Homo sapiens: one gene and its partners. The protein of the gene in region 1 interacts with the protein of each later gene in a pairwise test. Each region holds a gene or a part of one and is shown in the gene's direction. Other genes may lie near its edges. The genes, in order: TTPA, REEP2, SH3GLB1, LEUTX, CISD2, NOTCH2NLC and MRM1.

Region 1 (4,701 bases):
TTAGTAACGAGAGGATTTATGCATCTTAATATGTGGTGACTTTATCTTTTTGTCATTAACTTTTTTTCCTAAATTAAAAATTGATTAAAAAATATAATATATCAATGGAACAATAAAATGTCACATAAGTCTTGGTAGGTGTATATTGATATCTTTTTTTTCCAAAAGGTTTTTAAAGTGGTCATCATCTTTGACTCAGTAATTCTATTTCTGGGAAACTAGCTAAGGAATAATCTTTAATATATTAAAGATTGCGTATAATAATAATAGCTTACTATGTGCCAGGTACTTTGCTAAGTGTTTCAAATGCATTATCTTTTAATGTCCACACTGAGCCTATGACATATGACTATTGTATTTTCCCACTTTACAATTAATAAACTATATCCGAGAAGTGACATAGCGATGCCCAGGCACACACAGTTTGCCAGTAGTGAAGTGAGAATTCCAGCCCAGGTCACCTGAATGTAAAAGTCGTGCTTATAACCACCACTTCTCCTATACACAAAGACAGTTACTGCAGCATCAATTTCAGTAAAGAAGTAAAATAAATAGTTTATTAGTCCAGAAAATAGAAACATGGTTACTTAAAAAATGTACATTCATTTGATGGATTCTTGCAACAATAATAAAACATGATATTTGCAAAAGCTGTATTGTATCAGTGGAACACAACGGGATGAAAATTATTTAGAAAGTATATTAGCAATTATGTTTAAAAGAAAATTATGCATAGAAGGGATTTGGAAGGACAATCCCCAAATTAATAATACATCTCTGAAAGTGATGCATGGAAAAAATAAAAGAACTTCACATAAAAGAACCTTGGAATGAAAGGTCTCTGTATTAATAATACAACTTGTAGGTAGGAAAACCATCTTTTTCCTTCAACTCTTAACTTCTTAAACTTTCTAAATAAGCCTATATTACTTTGATGCTAAAGACATATACCAATGTCAAAGTTTAAAAGTGTGTGTTTATTGTGCTAGTCTTTCAATATTTGTGATTTTTTTTCTCAAAATAAACATTTTTTGGGAAAAAGTTAAATATAAATTTCCAAATGACTCATTGGTTCGTTAAAAGAACATCTATATGTGATGGGAAAGGAATTTTCTGGTGAAAGTGTGCAGATATTTTGTAAAATACTTTGCCAAATCTATAAGGAGAAACCTTTTTAGAGATCTTTACTTAATCTAGTGACAGTGAACTGTAAGCCAGGCTTTTGTGCTGATGGAATAAATAATTTTGAAGATAAAATCACACACTTTAGATATTTCCATAAGCTTAGCAAGTGTTCAAAGAAGAAACTTGACATTAGGTATCAGATTGTAATATTTATGTTTTGTTATTAAGATTTTTTTATTTTCAAAAGGATTCATTTCCATTGAAAGTTCGTGGCATCCATTTGATAAATGAACCAGTAATTTTCCATGCTGTCTTTTCCATGATCAAACCATTCCTGACTGAAAAAATTAAGGAACGGGTGAGTAAAATATATTCAAGTCTGTGTTCCTCTACACCAAACATTCCAACCCTTTTTAATTTAAGGATTGCTTTATCATCTTTCCTCGTACCTGCCCATCTATATCATTAGCCCAATATTTTGAATATTTATCTAACAAGCCAACTAAAAAAAAGTAAATTAAAATTTACTTTTAATTTATAAAAATCAAGTATATTGGTTGTAAGACTGTGGGGTAACTGGGCTTTTCATACACTGCTGGTTGGAATGCTTAATGGTATATTCCTATAGAGGGCAGTGTGGCAAAGACATCAAAATCACTGTCTTGAATTACCTATACCTAAACAAAATTACATATGCTAGAGGAGTCACAGCAGCAGAAGACTGAAAACCAGGAAGTGTTCACCATTAGGGCATTGGTTAAATAAACATCTACACAACAGAAAACAACGAGATTGCAGGATGTTTTGTAAACTGAAATAAACAAAATGTGGAATAGTGTTTATGGCATGCTACCTTTTGTATACAAAGGGGAGAAATAAGAATATATTTCATAAATTTACATTAAAAGGATATACAAAAAATAATATAAGTGGATATCTATAGGGAACAAGAGAAGAGGTGTGAACTACAGTAGATGAGAATAGGTTTGGGAGCAAGATCTCTCACTGTGTATCTTTTATCTTGTTTTGATTTGTAACCATATGAATTTATTATTAATGCAAATAAAAATAAACATTTTTCTTAAACAGTGAAGCCTACTTAACGGTTTCAGTGTAACTGAGAACCACGGTAACTGAGGTATATGACTTAATGTCATGCTAGTTAGAGCAAAGATACTGGATTTTTTCTTCTTTACCTAGCCTATGGAGCCTTATCTCAGAAAAAGCATCTCATATATCTTAGACTTTTTGAAAGGTTGAAAATAGAGTCTGCGTTCTCAAGAATGGCAACCATTCTAAACTAATCTGTAAAGAAGAATTTTTAGAGCATCTATTTAGACAAACATTGGCATCATCTAATGCCTTGAACACAAAACAATTTGTAAAGGTTTTAACAGTTTAAATCTAAAAAATCACTGAAATGTCAGCAGTGATAATATAAACTGTAATAGCACATTTGGAATTTTAGAAACGATGTTCTTTCATATTAAGAAAATATAACATCTTATACCTGGTCAGAAAGTTATGACCCTAGAGCTTCTTTAGAGGTTATGCAGTGGATGCTTCTGTTTGTCTTCAAGAACCACCCTTAAATTGCCTGCTTTAGCAAAAATGGCCACTTTCAGCTACTTTTCATTCTAGTATTTTTATACAAATCAATTTTGTTTGTTCATTTTTTTCTCTCTTCAGTGTAACTTGATAATATCTGGCTTCCCTCTGTTTAATTCTTAGAGATCTAAAAATAACTATTTCTATTTTGAGTAATATTTTAGATAAAAACAAAAACAAGAATAAACTGAACCTAAGAAATAGGAGAATATGGAGAAAAAAGCAAAAGTAAAAAGTTGAGAAGTTAGGGGAAGGATGTCAGTGAAAGTTAGTTGACGGGAAACAGACTTGCCAAAATAGGGAGAAAAAAACTCTGATCCAGCCACTTTTTTCCTTTTTAACTTTTTGGCAATGCCCCATACATTTTCTTATTTTGCCCCTTCCTGAGGAGATAGAATTTCTTCTCAATTACCTGATAATATTTTACATATTTCAGAAAAAATTAAAGATTGGCTTTGTGAGTTTCCTAAGTGAGTATAGGAAACTCATTTCATCCATCAAACCTCATATCCCAGCACATAATAGATGCTTATTAAATGATTGTTGAATACATAGAGGAACATTTTGCCCTAGAAAGTGAAAAAAGGTTATTTATTTATTTTAGCAGGTATGCTTTTGGTTCAAGTTTCTACGGCTTTCTCTTAACTTCAGGGCATTCTATGATCAATTTTATAGTTTAAAATATTTGAAAAGTTAAGGTTCTCAACTATCATAATTGTTTTTTAATACTTTTTTAAAATTTGACTTTTTAATTCTTTTAATTCTTTTTTTTTTTTTAGACAGGGCCTCACTTTGTGCAGTGGCACGATCTTGGCTCACTGCAACCTCCACCTCCTGGGCTCAAGCAATCCTCCTGCCTCAGCCCACCAAGTATCTGGGACTACAGTCCTGCACCACCACGCCCAGCTAATTTTTGTATTTTTTTTGTACCAGCCATGTTGCCCAGGCTGGTGTTGAACTCCTGAGCTCAAGTAATCCACCTGCCTTGGCCTCTCAAAGTGTTGGGATTACAGGCATGAGCCACTGCACCCGGCTGTCTCTTAACTTTATACTAACTAACAGTATCCATCGACTGTACCATATAAATTGTTTCTCATAGATTTAATTGTGTGCTCAGATATATGCTTCTACTTAATATGAATTAGTACCAGCTAGTACATTTTTATCGTGTATAGAATAGTCCCAAGGTATTAGTTTGGTAAGAATCACTTGCACATAAGGGAATAGAATTTATAAAATAACTTTATTTAATCTTTAAAAATTTACTTATGAAAGAGGAAAATAACTTTTTATAAATTTTATGCAGTTATAAGAATGCAAATCCAAGAAACAGTAAGGTTATTAGATCCACAGTAATACAACCTAAACATAAGTAAAATTATTAGATTCATAACCAGAGGAATAAAGGATGTGGTATCTATTTATACACTCCATTTTAGAAGTTATTAGAATACCTTGTTTTATGAGGTTGATTTTCCACTGGAAATGCATCTAATGCGGTTTCCTTCTAAAGTGTTTTGGCTATTTCAGATTCACATGCATGGGAACAACTACAAACAAAGCTTGCTTCAGCATTTCCCAGACATTCTTCCTCTGGAATATGGTGGTGAAGAATTCTCCATGGAGGACATTTGTCAGGAATGGACAAATTTTATAATGAAGTCTGAAGATTATCTCAGCAGCATTTCTGAGAGCATTCAATGAGAAGTTATGTCATGTGAATGGCTTCCTAACTAAAAATACATGAGTGATATCCAACCTGGTTAAATGAATGAAAGAAAAGGAGCAAATCTTTTAAACTAATGCTTGCCTGAACTTTAAAAATGTAGAAATCTTCTGACATGAGCAACACAGGTGTTTGGAAAGATTTTTTACTTTTTAAATGCTTTTTTCTCTACTTTTGAAGTAATTAAATGTCAGTACATTTTAAGAGCATAAAAATCGGCGATTTTGTACTTGAAGAGAACA
Region 2 (3,828 bases), on another chromosome or scaffold:
TTTCATGGGGTCCTTGATATCTCCCCTCTCATGCCTAACTTGACCTGCAGAAGAACAGACATAGTAGTGCCAGGCGAGGGGGCTCACACCTGTAATCCCAGCACTTTGGGAGGTCTAAGTGGGTGGATCATTTGAGGTCAGGAGTTTGAGACCAGCCTGGCCAACATGGTGAAACCCCGTCTCCACTAAAAATACAAAAAAAAAATAGCTGGGCATGGTGGCGCCCCTGTAATCCCAGCTACTAGGGAGGCTGAGGCAAGAGAATTGCTTGAACCCAGGAGGTAGAGGTTGCAGTGAGCCGAGATCGCGCCATTGCACTCCAGCCTGGGCAACAGAGTGAGACTCCGTCTCAAAAAAAAAACAAACAAACAAGGAGTAAGAACAAACATAATCCCCATGTTTCTTTCTGGCGGCAGCCAGAGCCCCTCAGTGGAATTCAGGAAACCCGCTTCTGCCATGCTGCCTGCGACCTTAGGCAGGTCACAGCTCTCGAGGCCTCAGTTTCCTTATTTGTAAAATAGGCATATGATTCACTCCTATAAATGCTGGATACTTGCATTTCCAAGGCATTTTCCAGGCTGTACTAGACTACGTATGTATGAGCACTTTGAGGACAGGGAATATGTCTTAATCATCTGTATATTCACAGCAGGAACTCAAAAATGTTTACTGAATGATCAGATACCTCTTGGAAGAGGGGACTAATAACACAGTTCATCGGAACTCAAGAAGAGAATTTTACCAAGGGGGAGAGGACAAGAGATCATTACATTTATAGATAAGACCCTTGCATTTGAGAAAAATAGTTTTAGAAGAGGAAAGAGATGGAGAGATGGGTTAAAAATTGAGGGTAAAGGCCGGGTGTGGTGGCTCACGCCTGTAATCCCAGCACTTTGGGAGGCCAAGGCAGGCAGATCACGAGGTCAGGAGATCGAGACCATCCTGGCCAACACGGTGAAACCCCGTCTCTACTAAAAATACAAAAATTAGCTAGGCATGGCAGGGCGCAGTGGCTCACACCTGTAATCCCAGCACTTTGGGAGGCCGAGGTGGGCGGATCATGAAGTCAGGAGATGGAGAGCATCCTGTCCAATACGGTGAAACCCCATCTCTACTAAAAAACAAAACACAAAAAATTAGCCGGGCGTGGTGGCGGGTGTCTGTAGTCCCAGCTACTCTGGAGGCTGAGGCAGGAGAACGGTGTGAACCCAGGAGGCGGAGCTTGCAGTGAGTCGAGATCGAGCCACTGCACTCCAGTCTGGGCAACAGGGTGAGATTCTGTCTCAAAAAAAAAAAAAAAAATAGCTAGGTATTATGGCACCTACTTGTAATCCCAGCTACTTGGGAGGCTGAGACAGGAGAATCGCTTGAACCCAGGAGGCGGAGGTTGCCGTGAGCCGAGATCGTGCCACTGCACTCCAGCCTGGCAACAGAGCAAGACTCAGTCTCAAAAAAAAAAAAATTGAGGGTAAAGGCCGGGCATGGTGGCTCCTGCTTGTAATCCTGGCACTTTGGGAAGCCAAGGCAGGAGGATCACTTGAGCCTAGGAGTTTGAGATCAGCCTGGGCAACATAGCAAGACCTGCCTATTAAAAAAAAAATTGGCCAGGTGCGGTGGCTCATGCCCATAATCACAGCACTTTGGGAGGCCAAGGGGGGGCAGATCACCTGAGGTCAGGAGTTCGAGACCAGCCTGACCAACATGGTGAAACCCCTTATCTACTAAAAATACAAAATTAGCCGGGCGTGGTGGCACATGCCTGTAATCCCAACTACTCAGGAGGCTGAGGCAGAAGAATTGCTTGAACCCAGGAGGCAGAGGTTGCAGTGAGCCAAGATTGTGCCATTGCACTCCGGCCTGGGCAACAAGAACGAGACTCTGTCTCAAAAAAAAAAAAAAAAAAAAGATGAGAGTAGGGCAAGGGTGGTGAGGTGAAAAACAAAACTGAGGGTAGTAAATATAGATGCCTTTTTTTTCTTTTTCTGAGATAGAATCTCACTCTGTCATTCAGGTTGGAGTGCAGTGGTGTGATCTCGGCTCACTGCAGCCTCTACCTCCTGGGCTCAAGTGATCCTCCCACCTCAACCTCCTGAGTAGCTGGGACCACAGGCACACGCCACCACACCTGGCTTATTTTTTATTTTTTGTAGAGATGGGGTTTTGCTGTGTTGTCAGGCTGGTCTTGAACTCCTGGGCTCAGATGATCCTCCCACCTTGGCTCCCAAAGTGCTGGGAGATTACAGGCCACTGTGCCAGGCCTATACATGTGTCTTGACACAGCAAAAGAGAGAGCTTTGATGAAGACTTTGTGAGGACATAGGTGACCTGAAGGAGTTTGTGACCAGAGGAGAAGGCACTATGGGGACTGAAGGGCAATCCTGGAGAAGTGAGGGTCGTGTCACGGTGGGGCAGGAGGGTCCAGAGCAAGCTAGAGAAGTCCCAGGCCTCTCGATGATAGGGAGGGCAGAAAGGGAAGGAGTGAAGACCCAGGTGTAGGCCTGCACAGTCAAGAGTTTCCCTTGGTGTTGACCCTAGGGCAGAGGAAGGGGGGTTTTCTCTAGGAGTGAGAGGGCTGGGGCTTGGGGAGAGGATGAGGCCAGGAGAGTCGCTGCTGGGGGAAATTCCTTCTAGTGTCACTGCTTACCTTCCTGTTTGGAGCTTCAGCTGAGCCCTCCAGACCCTTTCAGATTAGAAAGGAGCAGTCCCATGAGCCCCATGGGGACCCCAGTGCACTAAGAGTGAGGGGCTGTGCAGGGTCACACATGGGGCCGGTGCTGCTGGACACAGGGCACCTCCCAACTCCCTGCCCTGTACTCTGCGCTTGCCCCTGTCCCAACAGGTTCCCCTTCTACTTTGAACTGAAGATCGCCTTCGTGATATGGCTGCTGTCCCCTTACACCAAGGGCTCCAGCGTGCTCTACCGCAAGTTCGTGCACCCAACGCTGTCCAACAAGGAGAAGGTTTGCCCCCACTCTCAGCTCACCTCCCAGCCTGCCCCCAGCCAAGGCAGTCCAGAGCCTGCAGCCTCATACAGACTGGCCCTCCCTGTGGGGCCCAGAGCCCAAAGTGACTTGGCAGGGCTGCCGTGGCCTCCCGGAGCAGGCAGGGGCCTCTGTCCAGGGGTGAACAAGGGTAGGGCAGGACCTCTCCTCTTCTCCCTTCCCCTCCAATCCCATAGGAGATCGACGAGTACATCACGCAGGCCCGAGACAAGAGCTATGAGACCATGATGAGGGTGGGCAAGAGGGGCCTGAACCTTGCCGCCAATGCTGCAGTCACAGCTGCCGCCAAGGTGAGATGGGGGCAGGCTCAGACTCCCAGGGCCCCTACCTTGTACAAAGGGCCCTGGCCAGGCCCCTTTGCATCCACCCTGTACTCGGGGCTGTAGAGACTCTGGGCTCATGCAGCTGGAGGCTCCAGTCCAGGCTCTACTGCTATCTGGCCGAGTCACTTTGATTGTCCGGCCATTTCCCCATCTGTCCCCAGAGGCAAAGTGTGGCCCTGCCCCAGCCCTCAGCTCTGTCTGTGTGGGACTGGGTGAGGACAGTGTGGGGAGGGCACCGAGCCTGGGGCTGCTGCCAGCACCATGGTGACCTCTATCTCCACCCCGCCCCTTCCCCCCGGCTCTCCCGGTGCGTGGTGGTGACCCTAGGGCCAGGGGGTGCTGTCAGAGAAGCTCCGCAGCTTCAGCATGCAGGACCTGACCCTGATCCGGGACGAGGACGCACTGCCCCTGCAGAGGCCTGACGGCCGCCTCCGACCCAGCCCTGGCAGCCTCCTGGACACCATCGAGGACTTAGGTACAGGCAGGGCCCGGGGTTGGGGTGG
Region 3 (4,256 bases), on another chromosome or scaffold:
AATAATGTTAAGCTTCAAAGGCTTCTGGTACGTTTGTCTACCACAGAACCACCACAATATATATGCTTGTTCTTAGGTTTATTGCTTTTTATTTTAATGGGGTTTGGTTGTTTGGGTTTTATTTTGGTTTTGGCTTATTTTAAAGTCAAGTTTAGTTTTTACTCAGGTAAAGGCCTGAAGTTTCTTGGGCGTGGAAGAAAAAGCTTGGGAAGCCTATTAATTCATGGTGCAGTTCAGAATTGTTTAAATAAGCTCTGTGCCACTGAGCTTAATCTGAAAGTATAGTGACATGTGAAGGATGCACATATGAATGAAAAACTAAAATAATTGTAGGCTCTTCTATAAATGAAAAAAAAAGTGATTGGATTGTGTCTACCTTTTTCCTCAAAGTAATCTAACCTAAACGGTCATGGTGTTAAAACTTTTTATGGTGCTAATCAGAAAAATTGATGTTGCAAGAAATGAGGTCTCAAAAATGGGAATGTGCCTCCTCACTCTGCGTCACATGGGAAATAAATCCTGAGGCCAGGATCACCAGTGGGGTAGAGTCATCTTCATAGTCTCCTGTTATCCTCCCCCTGAACAAAGAACAAAGTGAGACTGGGAAGCTAGTGTTGGGGAAACATTTCTGGGATAAACTGTGGAGTGGAGAAGACAATGGAGGGCAAGGCAAAAACCCACAGACTTGTTTACCCATAGAGGCCCCACTCACCTCCATGCTGACAGAATTCCAGAAAAATTCCTTCCCTATCTCCCAAACACCTGAAATTCTGAAATATTGCCCTACTATTTAGCACTTTAAGCTTCAGTGAGGTGCTGTAATGGAGAGATAGCTTCATAGTTTAGCCTATAGCCAACTTTGCCTCAAGACCTCCAGATAAGATGAAGTGGCTTTTACCTCATGTGAGTCTCAAACGCTGGAGAGAGAGTTCCACAACCACCCCTGCCCTTTCTCCCATATTACGCTCATTAGAAAGTCTACTCAGGGCTGGGTGCCGTGGCTCATGCCTGTAATCCCAGCACTTTGGAGGCTGAGGCGGGTGGATCATCTGAGGTCAGGAGTTCGAGACCAGCCTGGCCAACATGGGGAAACCCTGTCTCTACTGAAAATATAAAAATTAGCCGGGCATGGTGGCGTGCACCTGTAATTCCAGCTACTCGGGAGGCTGAGGCAGGAGAATCACTTGAACCCCAGAGGCAGAGGCTACAGTGAGCCAAGATTGCACCACTGCACTCCAACCTGGGTGATAGAATAAGACTCTTGTCTCAAGGAAAGAAAAAATGTCTACTCAGTAGAGCAGTGATTGGCAAAGTGTGAGACCCCAGACCGGCAATATTGGCATCTCCTGGAGACTTGTTTAAAATGCTGATTACTATTTTCAAGAACTTTCTACCTTCATTTTTACTTATTTTTTGTTTTCAAGGGCTCATGGAATCAGTCTTCCATGTGACAGCTTTTTAAATATTTTAAGACAAAAACTGAGTCTTCTAATCTTAATTGTGTTCTAGCAGTAGTCATTGTAATTATAGTTATTTTTATAATTTATTTGTTTAGTGTATATCTGTCACTCTAGAATGTAGGCTCCCTGAGATAAAAACTATAATTCTTTTGATGGCAGTTACATTCCCAACTCTTAGCACAAGATCTAGGACATAGTATGAACTCAATAAATTTTTGTTGAATGAAAGAAAAATGCAAATTTATAAGCCTTTTCAGAGACCTACTGAATCAAACTCTGAGAGTGGAGCCCAGCAATCTGTTGTAAAAGCTGTTTGAGTAATACTGTTGCACTCTAAGCTTGAGAACCACTGCAATAGAACTAAGAGAACATTCATTTCACCTTCAGGCCTATTCTCTGACATCACTTGAAAAATCCTCTCTGCCTTCTGTAACCCTTAACCAACAACAGTGCCCTGTCCATGTAGGGGAAACTTCTGGGCTGTATTACAAGTGGGTAGGAAGGTATAAGGATATCATAGTGGGAAGTATTGCTTAGAATGCCAGTACTTGTTTGCTGTGGAAGGTTTCTAGGAATGGATTGCTTAGTCTAAAGTAAGCACTACCACCATCCACGTTTTCACTCAACACAGTGCCTTTTAATTGGTGACTAACATCAAAACACCTTGACAAACCGTTAAAACAGTATCAGAAACCATGTGTACATCCCTGTGCCTCTTAGATTGCTAAGTTCTGCTCTCATTCTTACTTCAAAGGACACTTTTTAAAGAATTGTTAATGCTTTTTTATAATACAAGTCATAGCCCTGTTGGCAAAAAGAAAAAAGATTCAGTGAGAAAGAAAAATCACTGATAATTCCATCATCCAGGGAGAACCACTGTTATTTAAGTATATGGCCTTCCAGACTTTTCTGTGCATTTATAGATATTTTTAATGGGATCAAAGTGTACATACTGTTTTGTAACTTTTTTTCACTCAACAATACCATGACTGTCTTGCTGTGTCAAGTATATTTCTACATCTCTTAATGGCTGCATGATATTCCATCATATGTGCCACATTTTATTAAACTACTGTTCAATTTTTAGGTTTCCAACTTTCATTAATAAAGTGCTTTAAAGAACATTGTGTTGCTAAATCTCGTATGTGTTCATATTTTCTCACGATAAATGCTTTGAAGTGGAATTGCTAGTGAAGAGGGTATGCCAGTTTTTAAAAGCTTTTGTTACTGCCATGTTGCCCCCTAGAAAACTCTAAGCAATTTATACTTTTATCAGCAGTATATGAGAGAATACTGTTTCTTTTGGAGGGCTTCCAACTAGAATGTTCTTGGAGTCTTTGGTTTAAAAATAAAGGGTAAGAGGGAGATAAAAAGATCCTGCAAAATTAAAGTCCAGTCTTAAATGTTTCTTAAATTATGACATTCATTTACTGTTCTTCCCTCTTTATCATATATTTTGTATTACTTTGGAAATGTTTGTAGTACTAGTTGCCTCTTGCTTTTATTCAGTCTCCTGGAAGCATTATTACCTTTCTGACATTTGCAAAGACAGTAGAAGAACAATCTTAAGTAGACTTGAATCTTGAGGTATCTTTGATGCAGGTGTACTGTTGATGGATTTAGGGAATGTAGCCGTAGTGGGGAAAGTAGGATTTTGGAAGGTAGGCAGAACAGTGGCTCTCCCACTTGTTTTCCTGGCCTTTTGTCAGTCATTAAACCTCTCCCACTTTGAGCCTGCTTACTCATCTCTAGAATTAGAATACTATAAACCTACCTTGTAGCATTGAAAGGATTAACCATATTATGAAGAGTGGCTGGCACCTAGTGGATAATATTATGGCTTACTAGGATTTATAGATGAGCATGTTAGAGCATTTGCTATTGTCAACCTCTGGAGTAAATATCACTGCCATTGCCAAAGAAAATCTTCCTTGAAAGCTGTCACAGTGAATGAGCATTGTCTTGTATATCCTTATACCTACGCAATCCTCATTCTTATGGAATCTGGCTCATTTTTTCCAGTCAGGTATTCAAGTAATGTAACCAGATAAAACTCTCAGACAAGATGTACAGTGGAAGATTTCAACATTACCATGCTTAACAACAGTGTACGAAAGTGGTAATCACAGTCTTTTTAAGTGGTAAACCTTGCCAAACTGCCCCTTCTGATACTCCCCCACCCTTGGCCCACAGCTGATCTCAGTGCTTCGGGGGGCTGTACCTCTATGTGAGAGCCTGACATAGGACAGGTGACTCAGCTCAGTAACAGTATTGTTAATTAGCTAAGTCTCAGTAGCATCTCCAGGACTGGAGATCACAGAATTGATTCATCCATAGTGAGAGAAATGTATTTAAAGAAGTATCTGAATTATAAAAGTTGCTCAGCAGTATTCAAAAAGATAGATGTCCCAGGGTTGAGCTGCAGTCATCATAGCAAAACCCCACAGACCAACCCATTTTAATATTTGGATGAACCATAATAAATTTAAATTAACATCTGTTGATTATAACTCAAACTGCTCAACCAATAAAGAATGAGTAGTAAGAGGACTTAAGGGGGTTGTAAGTAAGGAAGGCTATACAGGAAGCTTCAGGCTTACGAGAACAAGACGAATAGCTAATTGGAGGTGAGATGGACTACCATTATAAGCAACTTTTCTGAGAGTCTGATGCACCAGGGTTTAGGGCACATGTTTCTGCTCAGTCTCATGTTCTAGTAAAGTTCTCTGAAGCTTGAGCTGTAGTAGGCAGTTCCCAACAACCAGGCATTTTGATACCTGCTTGCCTTTTCTATGT
Region 4 (5,349 bases), on another chromosome or scaffold:
AGCCTGGGAGGCGGAGGTTGCACTGAGCCGAGATCACACCACTGCCTGGGTGATAGAGCGAGACCCCATCTCAAAAAAAGAAAGAAAAAAGGGAAAGAAAGTGAACTGAGTGTTCTGTGTCTCCCAAGGCCCCTTGAATGGCTTTGTCCTTCACTTGGAATAAAATTCAAACTTCTTCACCTTGCCCCGACCTTGGTTGGCCTTTCCAGTTTGAGCTTTTCCCGATATTCCTCTCCCACAACACACCTCAACTACAGTGGCCTCTTATCTGCACCTCAGACATGAAAAGGTTTTTCATGTCTCTGGGCCTTTGCACTTGATGTTCCCTTTGCTTAGAACACTCTTCCCTCTCCTTCAGTGAAAATGATACTTCCTCAGAGACATCTTACCTTACCTTAAAACTACTGCACATCCTCTGAATCAGTGCTGTTGGTGGCATTCATAACACCAGTAGTATCATAATCAGAACTGCGTATTGTCTTGTTTCCTTTTTTATTTCCTGCTTCCCTCCCTAGAATGCCAGCACTTGGGAAGGCGGCAGTGAGTTCTATTTTTGTAAATCCCAATTTCCTAGTCACTGGAACAAATCTTAGCAGAGCAGGCATTCAAATAATTAAGCAAACAAATGAAGAAGTGTCAGGGGTGTTTTAACGTTAAGTTCTGCAAAATTCCCTGCTATTGGGGAGGTCATACCCTTTGAATATATCACTCTCTTTCCATCCTCATTAGTGTCATAGGGCAACTCCAGGGACTGATTCTAACATTTAAACGGAAAATTTGAGGCCCACTTTATCCTTTCCGATAGGATTTGGGAGTTTCTACCCTTGACTGTGTTAGAAGTGTTCCTGAATTTTATTCCTGTAAAAGACATAGATGGGGCCAGGTGCAATGGCTCACTAGCACTTTGGCAGGCCAAGGCTGGACGATCTCTTGAGCCCAGGAGTTGAAGGCTGCAGTGAGCTATGATGGCACCACTGCACTCTAGTCTGGGCAACAGAGTGAGACCCTAAAACAAAACGTAAAAAGATACAGATGGGTCCTTCAATCATTTGGCCTTCAGGCTACCTGCAATGTTCCCAGAGACAGAGTTCTTTCGCTAGTCCAAGACTTTTCCAAACCAACCTGGTGGGGGTGTGGAGGTTGCGGGAGAGGACAGAGTTGAGGGGTAGTATAAGATGGGCCAAGACCAGAGTCCCATCTCTGCTTCAGAAAGCTTGGGTCCACATTGAGTGTGGGGAGGCCATATCTCATGGATAGAGACTAGATCTGTCTAGTGAATTACACTCACCCCACAAATAAGACCCATCATGGAGAAGAACGTTAGGGGGAGGAATAAATAAATGAGTTAATAAGGTGCCTGAAAGGTGGAGTAAATGAGTAACAGAGGGACAGAGAGAGGGATGCTCAGAGGAAAGAAAGAAGCATGATTCTTTTAATGCAATTTATATTTTAAGTTTCCTTGCTGAAAACTCGTTATGGGCTCCCCAGCTGCCCCCAAATCCATACTCAAGAGAAGATACAAGATCCCCTATGGTTTAGGCTCTGCCAAGTTCTTCACTGTCATCCATTGCTGTCTCAACTGGAAGAGGTTGAACCGAGATGGGCGGGTGAAGGGCTTAACTCCCATCATCCCAAACTCCTAGCAGGATGCCTCCTGCTGCACTCCGGGTCTCACTGGAAGCCGTCCACGCACAGGGCACCTCCTTCACCTTCCAGTTTGAATCATCTTACCAACTTATTTTTCTCTCAGCGCCTTGTTTATTTACTCATTGATCCCAAGTGACATTTTTGAACATTTTATCCATTTTCAGTTCGCTCCACTTTCTTTTGTTTTCTTCCACTCTCTGGAGTCAAGGATCAGTCTTTTTTTTTTTTTTTTTTTTTAAACATAGTTTTATTCCCAGTGCCCTACACAGCATCAGGCATATAATAGGTTCTAAATAAACAGATATTGAATGGATTATTGGAGGGCGTGGTATTAGGGTAGGACAGGGTGGGGACATGATTACATTAAAATTCTGCTTAAATAAGCGGGTCTTTTAGCCCAGCAGTCACATAGACTCAGCTCAGGAGCTCTGCAGCACACAGCTGATCGAACCCACTCATTTCTAGAGGACACCATGTTTGGTAAGTTGGGCGAAGGCAAGAGGCTGGGGTTTCAGTGATTGGGTTGCAGACAAATCAAGTGAGAGGTGTGGGACCTTGTGGTGGCTTCTTAGAAACCACTGGGTAAATTTAGAAACCACTGGGTTATACCAACAAGGATTGTTTGAAAAACACTTTGCAAGGGATTCTAGTAACTTAGGAATTTGTTTCTCCACATCTCTTTTTTAAAGAGATGGGGTCTTGGTATGTTGCCCAGGCTGGCCTCGAGCTCCTAGGCCCTAGTGATCCTCCCACCTCACCCTCAGGAGTAGCTGGGACTTATAAGTGTGTGCCACCATGTCCCGCTAATTTTTAAATTTTTTGTAGAGACAGGATCTCACTCTGTTGCCTAAGGTCGTCTTGAACTCACATCCTTTTTAATGCCTGGTAACTTTCATACTTTTTAAATGTCAGTCCATTGATGGGTATAAAATAGTATGTGATCTTTAATTCCCATTTCTTTACTAACCCGTGTGATTGAATCTGTTCACTCTATTTTAAAGGCCATTCTGTTTTTCCCCTATGCTAATTTTTATATTTATATCATTTCCCAGTTTTTAGTATGTTTTTTTTCTTGAGGCTTAGTAGAATATTTTTGTTGTCTTCTAGACACTAATAATTTATCTCTTATATGTGTTGCAAATATATTCTCCCAGCCTGGCTTGTGTTTTTCAATTTACTTATGAGTACCGTTGTACAAATATTCTAAAAGTTGTCATTGTGATATTTATCAACATTTTCCTTTTATAATTGTACTTGTAAAACGTAGTTTAGAAGTATATTACTGGCTGGGCATGGTGGCTCACACCTGTAATTCCAACACTTTCAGATGCCAAGGCAGGCGGATCTCTTGAGGCCAGGAGTTCAAGACCAGCCTGGACAACATGGCAAAACCCTGTCACTACTAAAAATACAAAAATTAGCCAGGCATGGTGGCATGTGCCTGTGGTTCCAGCTACTTGGGAGGCTGAGACACAAGAATTGCTTGAACCTGGGAGGCAGAGGTTGCAGCAATCTGAGATTGCACCGCTGTACTCCAGCTTGGGCAACAGAGCAAGACTCTGTCTCAAAAACAAAAAAAGTGTATTTCTTGGCTGGGGACATAAATGTAATTTTAGTTACATTTTATTTTAACTTCTTAAAATGATTTGATTCTAATAGAAAAATTATGCATCAACAAGCTCACTTATCAAAACTTGTACCTGGCTCTTCTAATACATTTTCCTATTGTTTAATACTAAACTTACAAAAATACTAATTAGTCGATTTTACATATTGACCTCTCAGCTTGGTAGATGATTTTAAACTCAAAGCCACATCCTTCCTCGATTTTACCTCCTATAACTTATCAATGTGCAGTGTTGCTTTTCTAAAGACCAGTAGAATTCTAATTACCATTCCTTTGATGGAAATTCTACTTCCCTTTAGAAGCTTCTGGAAATTTCTATATATTCCTGGTATTCTGATATTTTTGCAACAACGATCCTTTTGTTCATTTATTGTGCTCATCGTGGAATGTCTTCATTCTGGAAACCCCTGTGCCTCATCTCTCAAATCTTGAATTTTTTTTAATAAATACTTTCATGATACTCTCTGAAACATTTTTTAGTCAGAGATATTTTTAGTCACATAAATATTGCTAGTGCTGGACATCCCTGAGCAGAGATCTTATTTTTTTCCGACCTTTTCACTCTTTTTGTCCACTTTTGTATACTTTTTCTACTTCCTGGAATAGCTTTGTCTTCCAACTCTTCTATTATTGCCTAAGGGTTTCTTTTTAGCTACTGATTTCAAAGAACATTTGTCTTATCAGATTTTCCTTTCTTTTCAAGACTTTCTTGATGTATGAGTGCAATATCTTTTATCCGAGCATATTAATTTTAACATTTATAGATTTTCTTTTTTTTTGTAATTTTTTTCTAATTGTTTTATATTTTTAGTAGAGATGGGGTTTCACCATGTTGGCCAGGCTGGTTTTGAACTCCTGATCTCAAGTGATTCACCCTCCCTGGCCTCCCAAAGTGCTAGTATTACAGGCATGAGCCACCGTGCCCAGCCTTATTTCTTTTCTTAAGAAAAAATGTGGTTATTTGCTGCTTTCCTCCTCTTCTTTCTTTTTCTCTTCCACTTTCCCTTTCTTTTTTCTCTCTTTCTCTCTGTCTCTCCCTCTCTCCCTTTCTTGCTGTCCCCTTCCTGTTTGAGAATTTTTCTTCAATGTCCTGTAAATTTTTGTTCTCCCTTTGTGTCTAAACAAATGCTGAGACACTAAGAGAAACCCATGTGCCCGATCACTTGTCTTCACTGTGCGATAATTGGGCAGCATGTTGGCTTCTGTTTTTCCATGTATTTGCATGAGGAATAAGAGCATCCTGAAAATAGAAACTTTCCTATAAAATAGATGACCATGAGAATCAGGTTTTACTAGATGATGAGGTCTTATTTATATTCTAAACCATAGTAAAAACTCCCATTATGCACTAATACAGTTTGCATATTTGTCCCCTCCAAATCTCATGTTGAAATGTGATCCCCAGTGTTGGAGGTGGGCCTGGTGGAAGGGGTTTGGATCATGAGAGCAGATCCCTCTGAATGGCTTAGTGCCATCCTCATGGTAATGAGTGGGTTCTCTATCTCTAAGTTCACCTGAGATCTGGTTGTTTAAAAGAGTCTGGGACCTTCCCCTGCTGTCTCTTGCTCCCACTCTCACCATGTAACACCTTGGCTCCCCTTCGCCTTCTGTCATGAGTGGAAGCTTCCTAAGGCCCTCACCAGAAGCAGATGCCAGCACTATGCTTTGTGTATAGCCTGCAGAGCTGTGAACCAATTAATTCCTCTTTTCTAATTTACCCAGTTTTAGGTAATTCTTTATAAATGCAAAATGGACTAACACATGCACCAAGCCTGTAATTAACAGACTTGCTTCTTTGGTTACTCACATCTTCCCTAAAGGAGTGAGCTTTCTGGGACCATGTTATTGTTAAAGATACGGAGGCAAACAGTATAAGTGTACTGATGCTGCCAAAGTCACAGAGCTAGTAAATGAGAGAATCGACATTCATTCTTAGGTCACTAAGCTTCATATCTCCTTCCCTACAGACCCCATTAATAAATGGCCAAACCAATAGCTTCAGGGTCTCACAAGCCAATCAACATAGACAGCAGTGCCACTGAGTCTATGACCGGTTAGGATAATAGGGCCTCAAA
Region 5 (4,701 bases), on another chromosome or scaffold:
AACATTAAGGTTTTCAACCAGGCATGGTGGCTCACACCTGTAATCCCAGGACTTCGTGGGGCTGAGGCAGGCGGATCACTTGAGGTCAGGAGTTTGAGACCAGCCTGGCCAACATGGTGAAACCCCATCTCTACTAAAAATACAAAAATTAGCCAGACGTTGTGGTGTGCTCCTGCAGTTTTAGTTACTTGGGAGGCTGAGGCAGGAGGATAGCTTGTGCCCGGGAGGTGGAGGTGGTAGTGACCAAGAGCACACCACTGCACTCCAGCCTGGGCAATGGAAGTGAAACCCTGTCTCAAAAATAAATAAATAAGATTTTCATCTTTGCGTTCCCATTCACTCGCTTTTTGATAAATTTAAGCTCTTATGACTTCTAAAATATTGTAATATGTACAATAATACTTAATGTTATTCTACATTGAACAAACATTTAATGACTGCTATTTCGAGTTACATACTGGATGCTGGGGCCAATTGCAAGCTAAGATAATTAGTCAGATAAAACAGAAGGAACTCCATATGCAAAGAACTCAAAAAGGCTGCTTACTAGACAGTAGCTTTCGCTGGCCTCAGGTACATGAAGAGACCATGTTTGTGGAAGTTGAAGCTGGAAAGGTAGCCTTGCCATTCTTTGGAGATGGCACCTTATAGAGCCAATGATCTATAGTAGCATTGTCCAGTAAAACTTTGTGGTAATGGAAATGTTCTCTGTACTGTTCAATATGGTAGTCAGTAGTCACATGTAGCTAGCTATTGAGCCTCTGAAAGGTTACCAGTGTGTCTTAGAAACAGCATTTTACATTTTACTTAATTTTAATTTATTTACATGTGAATAGCCACATGTGTTTGTTTTGTTTTGTTTTGTTTTTGAGACAGAGTCTTGCTCTTGTCACCCAGGCTGGAGTGCAATGGCATGATCTCGGCTCACTGCAACCCCTGCCTCCTGAATTCAAGCGATTCTCCTGCCTCAGCCTCCCAGGTAGCTGGAATTACAGGCGCCTGCCACCACGCCTGGATAATTTTTTGTATTTTTATTAGAGACGGGGTTTCGCCATGTTGGCCAGGCTGGTCTTGAACTCCTAACCTCGTGATCTGCCCTCCTCAGCCTCCCAAAGTGTTGGGATTATAGGCATGAGCCACCACGCCCACATGTGTATATTAACCGTGTTTTCAATTTTCTGTATTTTATTATGCTTTAATATCTTAGGAGCCTTGTTGGCTGTGGAGACAATTTAATTCCTAGAGATACTAAATAACTTGCCTGTGAGCATGCCTTTCATATGCAAACCAACCAATCCAAAGCCCATGCCCCCAACCACCTCCTTTATCTAACCCTTACACATGAAGTCAGTATTTCTCCAGTCAATATTTCTCCTGCCCTAAGTCACCCCAGGGACAGGTAGGAGACGACTAGGGACCACTACTTTTGCCCAGAACCCACTGAAATTATTCAAGCTAGCCAGTCCTGAACAGTTTCCTGCCTTGCCTTTTCCATGGAAACCACAGTAAAGGCCTGTGCCCATGCTTTTTCCCTTTCCTCTTTCTTCCTCCTGATCAACCCTAGTACCTCTCATGTGGCCCTGCATTGCATAGTGTATCCTCTCCTCTTGGGAACTATAAGTAATAAACTGTTATTTCAAGACAGTTTCTACAAGTCTGTTGGGTACAAATCTAAACAGTATGGCTAGTGGTGCCCATATTGAATAGCACAGATCTTATACCTAGGCCTCCTTCTCCCCGCAAAAACAGTTCTGTGTTATCTCCAGAGCTTTAATTCACTCAAAGAACCTATTTGGAGTGTCTCCACTTTGGTTATGAGAATGTAACAGCCAGCATGGCAGACAAAGTTCATACTTTTACAGAGTTTTATTCTGGTAACTACAAGATTATATTCCTGAAGATTTTTGCCCATATAGCATTGTCAAGTTATTTGGCAAAATATTTTTTTCAAAGGAGTTGCTAGTACTTCCTCACCAATCTCTATAATCTCTGAATAAAAGCTACCATTTATTGTGTCTTTTTTGCCAGCCACTCTTATAGGTGCTATCTATGAAAATGGTAGATAAATAGGTTTTTTCATTTAGATTTCTTTGGCATGATGTTATATCAAAAATAATTCCATTTTGGAAGAGTTCATATTGTCTTTCTTTCAATAGTTAAATAGTACTATTATCTCCTGAGAGTAGTTTTACCAAGATAGGCACAGATTTTAATTTTAGATCTATTGGGTTTGATTCATGATAACTGACAACAGGCTTTGGATTTAGGGTGTCCTGGACTAAACCTGCTTAGGCTACAGTTTTCTCACATGTAAAATGGGGATAATAATGATACCTACCACATATAGTTGTTTAAGCTAACATAGTGTTAAATGAGCTAGTGCCCTTATACTCTTAGCATAACCTGTTCATTTATCTTTAATGTTTATTAGCATGAGTTAGCATATTATTTTCTGTTTTTCTCTTTTCTCAACTAAGCTATTTCCACATAGTGCCTAGCAAGGTATCAGATTCGGCATTCAGTGAAGGAAGTTAACTGGTAATTCTATAAGAACAGAAAAGAGCCCAGCAGAGGCAGGGTGCTAGCAGACATTTGATAAATGTATGTTGAAATGTTTATCTTGGTTTCCTGGTATTTTTGTGTCCACATGCATAGGGACTGTTTCATTTGTATCACTTATATTCCCTGTCCCCTTAAGACAGGCTAGGTACTCCAAAAGGCTTTAAATGAAGTTTATGGAATTAGATATATCTTAAAATGAGAACATTCAACATAGAAGGTTTCAATTTGTTCTTTAAAATAGTAGCTTTTACACAAAATTTCAGTGTTCTTTAGCAACATTTACCAAAAATGTACCTTAAAGCATCAGAGGACATGTTCTCTCTGATATTATGAATCAGTGGTAAAAATTCTGCAGATATTCTGTTGTATGATTTTGACATAGTATTAAGGAGATAAAATGTTTTCTTAACTTATAAAATATACATTGAATTTTGTTTATAGTTATAGTGATCATAACTCCTAAAATAAAAATAGACAAACACAAATAGACTTGATGTAGACAATGAGATAGGATATTTGAAATGGAACCTATTTCTGAAAAGTTAGGTTTCTAGTTTCACTGGTCTCAAATTATAAATAAAGTAAGGTGGTCTTTGGTAGAGCTGGCTTTATTGTGTTATTTATTCACAGTTTTATGGATCCATTAAAAAGGAATTAATGTAAAAAGTAACAAAGAATAAGCTCAAGGATGAAACTAGACATGCTATTTTGAATTCTTTTCCAAGAGCACTGCAGATTCTGACACATCTACATGTTTAGTTTCAGAATGGCTTCGGTTATTGCCTTTCCTTGGTGTACTCGCACTTCTTGGCTACCTTGCAGTTCGTCCATTCCTCCCGAAGAAGAAACAACAGAAGGATAGCTTGATTAATCTTAAAATACAAAAGGAAAATCCGAAAGTAGTGAATGAAATAAACATTGAAGATTTGTGTCTTACTAAAGCAGCTTATTGTAGGTGTTGGCGTTCTAAAACGGTAAGATGTCTGTTTACGTGTACACTAAAATTTTGCAGTGCTAGGATTGTTTCGCCTCTTAAATCCCCAGTTTTGAAGTTCTTTAAGATGAGAGAATTTTCTGTAATATTTGGTATTGAAAGACCATATTCCTAAATTGAAGTTTTCATGTCATGATAGATACTACCTACATTAGAAAAGTTGGAGCAGCAAAGAAGAATAAAAATCTAATGCCTTCGCAATGTTTGGCATTTATGTAGAGTAACATGTATTTTAAAATACACATTCTTTGAGAGAGGACCTAAGGTTTAATGGAAAAAAGCTTTGGTGTCATAGTAAATAGTGGTCAAATATACTTGTCACAGTATGAGTTTGGTTGGACAAGTTACTTAATTTTTAATCTCTAATCTTCAGGGTTTGTTTTAACCTGATACATCCACATTACATATCTTTGAGAAGTGAGATGATATATGTAAACTGCTTTAATAATATGAGGTAGTAAATGATAGCCTCAATTATAGATGATTTTTAATGTGGGAAGGAGTTTGGAGTGATAAGTACTATAAGTAGTTGACAAAATCTGTTTCTTGTACTTGATCATAGATTATTTGAGGTTTTTAATACAGTATTGCTCATCACAGCATCCTTTGTAATAGCAAAATTTTTATAAACTAAATATCTGATAAAAAGGGAATGATCATGTTTTTAAAGGATATATAATGACATGAGATCCTGATATGAGTAAGAAAGCATATTACAGTGTGATCCCAATTTTGTTTAAAAAACGAATACACGCAGGCCAGGCGCGGTGGCTCACGCCTGTAATCCCAGCACTTTGGGAGGCCGAGGCAGGTGGATCACCAGGTCAGGGGTTCAAGAACAGCCTGACCAACATGGTGAAACCCCGTCTCTACTAAAAAATACAAAAAAAATTAGCCAGGCGTGGTGGCATGCACCTGTAGTCCCAGCTACTCAGGAGGCTGAGGCAGGAAAATCACTTGAACCCAGGAGGCAGAGGTTGCAGTGAGCCAAGATCACGCCACTGCACTCCAGCCTGGGCGACAAGGTGAGACTGTCTCACAAAAAAAAGAAAAAAAAGAATACACACAATAAATGCATAGGAAAAAATATACCAAACTGTTAATTATTATTATGTGTATCTGGATGGGTTATGAGTGAATTTTTT
Region 6 (4,701 bases), on another chromosome or scaffold:
TAGGATTTAGATATTTTGATTTTTAGACAGGTGTTCTTTAGATGCTAAACTAATGCAGTAGAAGAGATTTAGAAGCCTGTTTCTTGGTACAAATCTTAAATCTTCTTAGAGTCTACAGTGAAGGCTTCTTGAATCCTCTTAATTTATTATTGTGTTTTGCTAAGGTACCAATTACAGCACACCCTTCTAAACTTTTGAGTGCTCCTGTGTTTGGCTTGTGGCCAATTGTTAATTTAAACATCACGGAGTTTCTAAGGCAAGGAGATGTTAGCAGTATGTCTGATTGTCTAAACAGCTATCCAGGACCATCCTCTTGCTCCTTGTTTTCTTTTGCTTTGCAATGGGAAGTGACTCCCTGATTTTGCTGCCTGCTAGATAATTTCTCAGCTGAATTCTTCTCTTAAACAAAATCGGAGTAATTTTCTTTCAGATGGTGATGAAATTTAACCTAAAACTATTTTTCCTTTCACTTTCTTATTATTCCTTTTTTTTTTGGTGTGGTGGAGAGGAGGAGGAGAGTGATTCCTAGTCTCTCTTATTTTTCTGAATGTTTAGATTTAAAAAATATTTACCCATAACTTCTTGGGATCTCTCTGCTCCATTCCCACCCTACTGCCTCTCCTGTAGGCTTCTATGACATAGAGAAGCAACTTTTGGTTCACCTGGATTGTAGTTGCTGACTTCAGGACCTTTAGAGAATGTTTAAATTCAGTGGGATATGCTTGGATGGTTCAGAGCAGCCTTACAATACATTTTAAAAATATCACACCCACAGAAATTCTATTTTGCCCACAAAATTTGCATTGATCTAGTTCCCACTCTGTGTTGCCATTCCTAGTGATCCTCCTCCCTACCTCTCCCATTATGGTAGAAAAAAACTCTGTGTCCTGGCTACATCAAAATCTGTTGGGGTGGATCTTGGACTCAGCACCCAGGGATTCTGATAAGGTAAGTTTGAGAATCCATATTTTTTCAAGGTTTACAGGTGATTCTGACAAGTAACTTGGTTGCAACCCACTGATTAAGTACATTTTTTTTTACCTTCAGGTGTGTGTATGAGGTCTTTCTAAATTTAAGAAATTTCCATAACAAATGTAACCTTAGTCATTCCAGTGTTTAACACTTCTGACTCAAGAATTTTAAAATTGCTGACGTAAGAGATATAGAATATAATGTCATTTCTTCTGTTTATCTGGGTGCAGTATGTCTGCATTGACCCTTTAGAAGGGCTTCATATATTTAGATGATATAATAAATTCTCCACCTCTCCTTTTCCCTTTTCTTCTGTTATCTCGTTTTCCTTAAATGTCATTCATACATGTTGTTTTTTGACCCTTTATCTATATACGTCTGCAATGATTTTAGAGTAAAAAACTGCAAGGCGTGATTTGAATAAGGATATAAGAAATTTTACATCATTTTCTTTATATTGTGTTCACAGTCCATAGTTACATGCTTCCTTTCTTGATGTCTCAGTTCGAATGCCTAAATTTGAACTATTAATTTTCCTTCCACCCTTTCCTGATTTTCCTGTTTTTGTTTCCCACCCTTTCTCTGCAAATGACTTGAAACCAAAAGGTCTTCTTTTCTTTCTTTGTCAGCCTACCATATGTGTAGTATTTTGGACAGATCACTGAACTAGGAGCCAGAAGACCAGAATTCTTCTCCAGGTCTGTTATTAATTGGTTTGGTGACCTTGTAGGAGAGCCACTGTTTTGGTCCTCCATTTTCTGATGTTCATTGTTCATGGTCACAGAGCCAATTAGAGTTGAGACTAGAATTCCTTTCTTCTGGTGTCCAGTGCCTCATTCACTGTCCACATTGCTTCCATCTCATGTACAAATGCGCTTATGTGCACAAAAACTCTTATAACATCCTCAAGTGCTTATTGTTAATGCGTACATGAGGAAGGAATCGTGTATTTTCATTTATGTGTTTATTCTAATGCCCATACCCTACCCCTGTACCTGGCATGATGCCTTGGTATCTAATAGGCACACAATAAATACTTGTTCAGTCGAACAATTATTTTTAGCCACTTTCTTATTTTGGACAACTGTGGTACTCCTAGACATTTTAAAAATAGTATTTGCAGGAGTCATGCTTACCTTACATTTGGGGAAAAACCAAATTTTTCCCTTCCCCAGATGTTTCATTTAAACTTGTAATTTTGAATTTCTTTGTGTGTGGGGTTTCTTTCTTTCTTTTTCTGATCACTTCTGCAATTTATAAAGGTCACTTTGACTTTGGAATCTCACTTCAAAGGCACTGCCACCCACCCCCTGCCTCTCACTCAAGTTTGCTTCCACTGCTTCCTGTATTACTGTATTACTAGGCCAGCAATTTCTGTTATTTTGTCCAGAATAGCCACACCTTATTGTAATTTCATCATTTTGGGGACTAGTCATTTTTGGAATACTATTTTTAAAATTAGAGTTAACTAAGTTTATATTTATTTTGATAATTTTTTTTGAGATTTTTTTCATTGAGTTGGATATTGCAAACTTGTACTGGATTGAGAGAATATGTACATTTAGTAAAGTATATTTGCTTTTTTTTTTTTGAACCAAGAGAGTCCCCTGAACACCCTGCTGACAAAAACTAAAGGTGAAATATGATGAATAAATATTTGAGAGAATCACATGGTGTTGAGTTGTCTCTGCCACATGATTTTGATCCTTGAGGGCCAGGTCTGTGCTACACACATTTCTTCTCTGTACTACAGAACTTGTCTGGCATGTGCCCGAAATTCAGAGTCAACTGAGCGGCAGGTCTTAGTCACAGCATCTATGACTCCTGCTTTCCCACCTTTAGAACATTCTATAGGAGAGGCTGATGGTGAGTTGGAGTGTGTTTCTATGTTCTTTTTTCCTTTGAAGAGATAGGATCAGTTGAAAGCTGACCCCACCCACAGACTTTTTTTGCTATCTCTTTTAATTAATTAAGGAGTGGCTGAAATTTTCCTCTTTGTTGACTTATGCATTGGCGGGAACTTTAAAATTCATCTAGTCTTTCTGTCCATCCCATGCTGGATCTGATGTTTACAACATTCTAGTCAAGAGGTACCATATTTTCTCTCTTCTTGAACATCTCTTGTGGTAGACAGCTCTCCACAGCAGTTTATTCCATCTTTGGCCAGCTCTAATTCTTAGAAAGATCTTCTTATATTCAGCTGTAATCCATCTCCTCATGACTTGTCCTCATTGACATCTACTCAGAAATTTGTCTCAGAGTCCTGAGACCTGTGCAGGTGATAGGGACCCAAAGAGATGCTTGTCTGTAGACTTTACTGGGCTGACACCCAGCTCTCCATAAAAGGAGTCAAACCCAGTGAGGAGCATGTCTGGGGTGATTGCTCAGGTAAAGCATCTTAGCCCTACTTGTTTCATACCTCCCTGCACAGGTGGGCACTGGTGGGAGAATCACATTTATCAAGCAGTGTTTCCCTAACCTCTCTTATGATAAGAATAGCTCAGGTGTTCTCATGGAGATTCTGATTCAGTGCATCTGGAATGTCATCTGGGAATTTGTGTGTTCAAGAAATAGCCAGGTGATTCTTACATTAGGAAAGTTTTAGAATCACTGCAGAGTGAATCTGGGAAATCAAAGTGTTTGTTTTTGTTTGTTTGTTTTTTGAGAGTATTAGAGACAGGTTGCTTTGGCTAGATCCTGTGGTCATTTTTCCCCCTTGGAAATGCCTCCTACTTGCTGGCCTCACTTAGTACAGAGAAGAAAGCTGCTATGGTATAAGGTTAGTAAAGTTGTTTGTTTTGTCTTAAAAGAAATTTGCGAAATCCAGCATTTTCGGACTTCTGTTTGTGTTGTATGACTTTGTTGTAAGCCTCCTTATTCCTCCATTAGAATGTTACCTGAGATGTTAGAATGCATAGGAGTTCCACAGCCTTTTTGGTGTCCACTAAAGAATTCTGTCCTCAGCCGTTGCAAATGGTGCTTCCTTTGAGGATTTCTGCTTCATTAGCTCATGAACACATATTTGGTGTCGGCAGTTTCCCTCAGATGTGTTAGTGTGGAGAGATATAAAGGTCACTCATTTCTGGTGGTCCTGCTTTTGGGGTTTCTGGGCTGCTGCAGCAAATGAAATAAGGAAAGGAAAATAAAGGAGGAATCTAGGGCTTCTTGAGCAGAACAAAACAATCTGCAAGAAGGGGCACAGGATTGCTCCTCTCACAAAGACACTTGATAATACTGTCCTTGATAGGAAGAAGGAAGTGGCTTCAGATCTGAAAGGATATGCTCATAGGCTTGAGACGGGACAAACTGCATCACTGGTAGTGGTAGGAGGTTTGCCGTAGATCTGTTTTTTCTCCTGTCTCTCTTTTTTGAGGAGAATATTATCTGTATGGCAGAACATACATTGTGGTCTTAAAAAGGAGAGTAAAGCCAAGAAAGGGGGATGATAAAGCCATAGCTTGGAATAAGAAAAGCAAAGGAATTATTGTATTAATTTGTGTATGTAAATACATAGGTTTCCATGTAATTCACTGGTAGGATCACTAGCCCTTGGCACTAACATTTGCTATCTTTGTAGCTCTGCTGTCTTAGTGGTGTATTGGGGGAGCATTGTGGTGTGTTGTCACACTTAATTTGTGTGCTTCCCTTGGCATCATGTGGTAGCAAGTACAGGGTATTCTACTCTTCTAGATGTGTGGGAATCATTGACCAAGTAGAAAATATGGTCCT
Region 7 (3,642 bases), on another chromosome or scaffold:
AGTGCCTAGAACAGAGCCCATGCTAGGTGCTTAATAACTATTGACTAATTGACTGGATCAGCAGATAAATGAATGTATGGGCAAGGCTGGGCTCTTCCTTGGCCAGGGCTCTGATGGATAATTTTTTTTTTTTTTTTTGAGATGGGGGTCTCACTCTGTCACCCAAGCAGGAGTGCAGTGGCGCAATCTTAGCTCGCTGCAATGTCTGCCTCCTGGTCTCAAGAGATCCTCGTGTCTCCTGAGTAGCTGGGATTACAGGCTGATTTTTGTATTTTTAGTAGAGACAGAGTTTCACCATGATGCTCAGGCTAGTCTTTTTTTTTTTTTTGAGACAGAGTGGAGTCTCGCTTTGTTGCCCAGGCTGGAGGCAGTGGTGTGCTCTCAGCTCACTGCAACCTCCGCCTCCCGGGTTCAAGCGATTCTCCTCCCTCAGACTCCCAAATAGCTGGGACTACAGGCATGTGCCACCACACCCAGCTAATTTTTTGTGTGTTTTTAGTAGAGACGGAGTTTCACCATGTTAGCCAGGGTGGTCTCAAACTCCTGACCTCAGGTGATCCGCCCGCCTCGGCCTCCCAAAGTGCTGGGATTACAGGCGTGAGCTACTGCGCCTGGTTTTTTGTTTTTTTTTTTAATTTGAGATGGAGTTTCACTCTTGCTGCCCAGGCTGGAGTACAATGGCGCAATCTCGGTTGACTGCAGCCTCTGCCTCCCGAGTTCAAGCGATTCTCCTGCCTCAGCCTCCTGAGTAGCTGGGATTACAGGCATGCACCACCATGCCCGGCTAATTTTGTATTTTTAGTAGAGACGGGGTTTCTCCATGTTGTTCAGACTGGTCTCGAACTCCCAACCTCAGGTGATCCCCCTGCCTTGGCCTCCCAAAGTGCTGGGGATTACAGGCGTGAGCCACCGTGCCTGGGCCAGGCTAGTTTTGAACTCCTGACCTCAGGTAATCTGCCTGCTTCAGCCTCCCAAAGTGCTGGAATTACAGGCTTGAGCCACTGCATACAGCCTCTGATGAAGATTTGATGAATTAGAATAGGAGAGGCAGGCATGGTGGCTGACGCTTGTAATCCTAGCACTCTGGGAGGCCAAGGTGGGAGGATCGCTTGAAGCCAGGAGTTCCAGACCAACCAGGGCAACATGGCAAAACCTCATCTCAAAAAAAAAAATGCAAAAACTAGCCGGGTGGGGTGGCGAGTGCCTGTAGTCCCAGCTACTTGGGAGGCTGAGGTGGGAGGATCACCAGAACCCAGGCGGTTGAGGCTGCGGTGAGCTGTGATCGTGCCACTGCACTCCAGCCTGAGCGAGAGTAAGACCCTATCTCAAAATTAAAATAAAAAAAGAATTAGAACATATCTTCTTCCCCCTTTCAGACCAAAGCCCAGCAGGGCTGGCTCGTGGCCGGCACGGTGGGCTGCCCAAGCACAGAGGATCCCCAGTCCTCCGAGATCCCCATCATGAGTTGCTTGGAGTTCCTCTGGGAACGGCCTACTCTCCTTGTGCTGGGTAGGTGGATGTCCCTGCGTTTGTGCCCAGATTACATTTCCCGAGCAACTGGGTGTCCAGCTGGGCAACCCTAACCCTCAGCCCCACGCCCTGCAGGGAATGAGGGCTCAGGTCTATCCCAGGAGGTGCAGGCCTCCTGCCAGCTTCTCCTCACCATCCTGCCCCGGCGCCAGCTGCCTCCTGGACTTGAGTCCTTGAACGTCTCTGTGGCTGCAGGTGAGTCTACTCCCCTTTCCCTTTCCTCTATCCCTCTAATCACGCAGGTGGGATTTGATGCCCTCTAATCCCATTTGCTGGCTGTTTGTGTGCCTCAGTTGCTTTATGTACAAAATGGGGAAATTACATCCCGTTGATGAGATGAGGGGCTGCCTGAATGTCTAGGTCTCTAAACATCATCCTTCTCCTCCGTCCTCTCTTCCCTTGTCCTTGTGTCTGTGCAGGAATTCTTCTTCACTCCATTTGCAGCCAGAGGAAGGGTTTCCCCACAGAGGGGGAGAGAAGGCAGCTTCTCCAAGACCCCCAAGAACCCTCAGCCAGGTCTGAAGGGCTCAGCATGGCTCAGCACCCAGGGCTGTCTTCAGGCCCAGAGAAAGAGAGGCAAAATGAGGGCTGACGTGGACTGTCCACAGTGTTCATGTGCTGGAGTCAGGGACGGCCGCACCTGCCTCCGCCGGCTCCAGTGTGCGGGGAGCCTCTGCCTGAGTGTGCACCAGGCCCATGTTTATTGACCACAGTCTGGGGGGGGGGGAAGGGGACTGCGGTGGACACCAGAGGAAGCTGTTTCCTGTTGTGATGTTGGACCTGTAGTAGGACATGGTGATTTGTTAATTTCCATGGGAAGCCATGATGGCCTAGCATGGAGGGAATCTGTTCCCAGGCCCTGCCTGGAAGTTGAGGGAAAGTTTAGACATCTGCAGAGAGGCAGGCAGCCCAGCCCAGGGGACCCGTTCCTCTTGAACCAGTCATTGCCTGTGGCAAATGTGTGTATGAGAATGTGGGGGGTGGAGGGCGGGGCCCTGATGTGGAGTAGACAGTGCGCACCTCAGGCCCACACACGGCCCCGCCCTGGGGCCTTGAGCGCAGGCCTCATCTTTCTGTGCCGCGGGACTCCGCACCTACCTCACAGGGTTGTTGTGAGGCTCAAATAAAACATCACTCAGCACGTGGGAGATTCTGGCCAATTCCTCCGTTAGGTGGCAGCCTCGCTCTTCGGTCCAGTCTTCAGGCAGCTTCCACAGCCTCCTTGCGGGGAGACTCCTGGCTGCAGCCCCATGAGAGGCGACGGGAAATTAGCAAACACCTCCCACCCCACGGGGGCCCCCCACGGGTGACTGAGTCAGTTCCCTTCAAGGGGAGGAACTGGGAGCAGGCTTGCCGTTGATTGTACAACCGAGACAGATTTGGCACTCCTCCCCTCGGGTCCCAGGAAAGCAGCAGGAGCCAGCAGTGTGAGGAGCATAGAAGTGTTTCTGTCCTGGTGGCACATTGGAACCACCTGGCATGCTTTAAAAAACCCAACACTGACACCAGAGAGTCTGACATGATGGGTGTGGCGCCACCTGGCATCCGGCTTTCGAAAGCGCCACCATTGGTCTAATGTGCAGCCAAGGCTGAGAATCACCACTAGGGCAGGTGGACTCAAATTCCACACCCTTGACATTTTGGGCCAGATAATTTTTTGTTGTGAGAGCCATCCTGTGCACTGTAGGATGTTTAGCAGAATCCCCGACCTATACGCACTAGATGCCTGTAGCATGACCTCTCATTATGAAACCAGAAATGTCTCCAGACGTTGCCAGATGGCTTCTAAGAGACAAAAATCTCCCCTCCTGGAGCATGGCTTTGGAGGATAGCAACCCCGAACTTGCAATCCTGACTGCTATGTGACCTTGGGGGGGCGCTCCTTACCCACCTGGGCCTCGGTGCCCTCCTGGGCGAAAGGGGAATAATCCTACCTTCCTGGATTGTTGGGAGAATATGGAGGGCAATAGGAACTCACATGTATTAGGTGCTCAATAAATAGTACTCCACTTTTCTCTGGAATCCATCTGCATTGGATTTGTCTCAATTCTAATAATGGCAATGCCAATTTAGAGCAACACTTAAAGTTGTTTAAAAAGGGCCTATGCTCCT

Evidence for each region.
Region 2: the proteins of TTPA (region 1) and REEP2 interact in binary tests that used the Homo sapiens proteins (3 or more experiments, as listed by UniProt).
Region 3: the proteins of TTPA (region 1) and SH3GLB1 interact in binary tests that used the Homo sapiens proteins (3 or more experiments, as listed by UniProt).
Region 4: the proteins of TTPA (region 1) and LEUTX interact in binary tests that used the Homo sapiens proteins (3 or more experiments, as listed by UniProt).
Region 5: the proteins of TTPA (region 1) and CISD2 interact in binary tests that used the Homo sapiens proteins (3 or more experiments, as listed by UniProt).
Region 6: the proteins of TTPA (region 1) and NOTCH2NLC interact in binary tests that used the Homo sapiens proteins (3 or more experiments, as listed by UniProt).
Region 7: the proteins of TTPA (region 1) and MRM1 interact in binary tests that used the Homo sapiens proteins (3 or more experiments, as listed by UniProt).

Annotation. Positions count from the first base shown.
Region 1 is NC_000008.11:63,060,988-63,065,688, reverse strand, and holds part of TTPA (alpha-tocopherol transfer protein), read left to right. Parts: intron 1-1,372; coding exon 1,373-1,483; intron 1,484-3,512; coding exon of another isoform or gene 3,513-3,698; exon of another isoform or gene 3,699-4,263; coding exon 4,264-4,437; 3' UTR 4,438-4,701.
Region 2 is NC_000005.10:138,441,576-138,445,403, forward strand, and holds part of REEP2 (receptor expression-enhancing protein 2), read left to right. Parts: intron 1-2,839; coding exon 2,840-2,960; intron 2,961-3,178; coding exon 3,179-3,292; intron 3,293-3,652; coding exon 3,653-3,800; intron 3,801-3,828. UniProt on the Homo sapiens protein: Required for endoplasmic reticulum (ER) network formation, shaping and remodeling. May enhance the cell surface expression of odorant receptors.
Region 3 is NC_000001.11:86,745,601-86,749,856, forward strand, and holds the end of SH3GLB1 (endophilin-B1), read left to right. Parts: 3' UTR 1-2,584; downstream 2,585-4,256. UniProt on the Homo sapiens protein: May be required for normal outer mitochondrial membrane dynamics. Required for coatomer-mediated retrograde transport in certain cells. May recruit other proteins to membranes with high curvature. May promote membrane fusion.
Region 4 is NC_000019.10:39,776,801-39,782,149, forward strand, and holds the start of LEUTX (paired-like homeodomain transcription factor LEUTX), read left to right. Parts: upstream 1-2,053; 5' UTR 2,054-2,120; coding exon 2,121-2,127; intron 2,128-5,349.
Region 5 is NC_000004.12:102,881,895-102,886,595, forward strand, and holds part of CISD2 (CDGSH iron-sulfur domain-containing protein 2), read left to right. Parts: intron 1-3,154; exon of another isoform or gene 3,155-3,321; coding exon 3,322-3,536; intron 3,537-4,701. UniProt on the Homo sapiens protein: Regulator of autophagy that contributes to antagonize BECN1-mediated cellular autophagy at the endoplasmic reticulum.
Region 6 is NC_000001.11:149,393,265-149,397,965, forward strand, and holds part of NOTCH2NLC (notch homolog 2 N-terminal-like protein C), read left to right. Parts: intron 1-4,701. UniProt on the Homo sapiens protein: Human-specific protein that promotes neural progenitor proliferation and evolutionary expansion of the brain neocortex by regulating the Notch signaling pathway.
Region 7 is NC_000017.11:36,606,294-36,609,935, forward strand, and holds the end of MRM1 (rRNA methyltransferase 1, mitochondrial precursor), read left to right. Parts: intron 1-1,376; coding exon 1,377-1,509; intron 1,510-1,605; coding exon 1,606-1,725; intron 1,726-1,949; coding exon 1,950-2,122; 3' UTR 2,123-2,671; downstream 2,672-3,642. UniProt on the Homo sapiens protein: S-adenosyl-L-methionine-dependent 2'-O-ribose methyltransferase that catalyzes the formation of 2'-O-methylguanosine at position 1145 (Gm1145) in the 16S mitochondrial large subunit ribosomal RNA (mtLSU rRNA), a universally conserved modification in the peptidyl transferase domain of the mtLSU rRNA.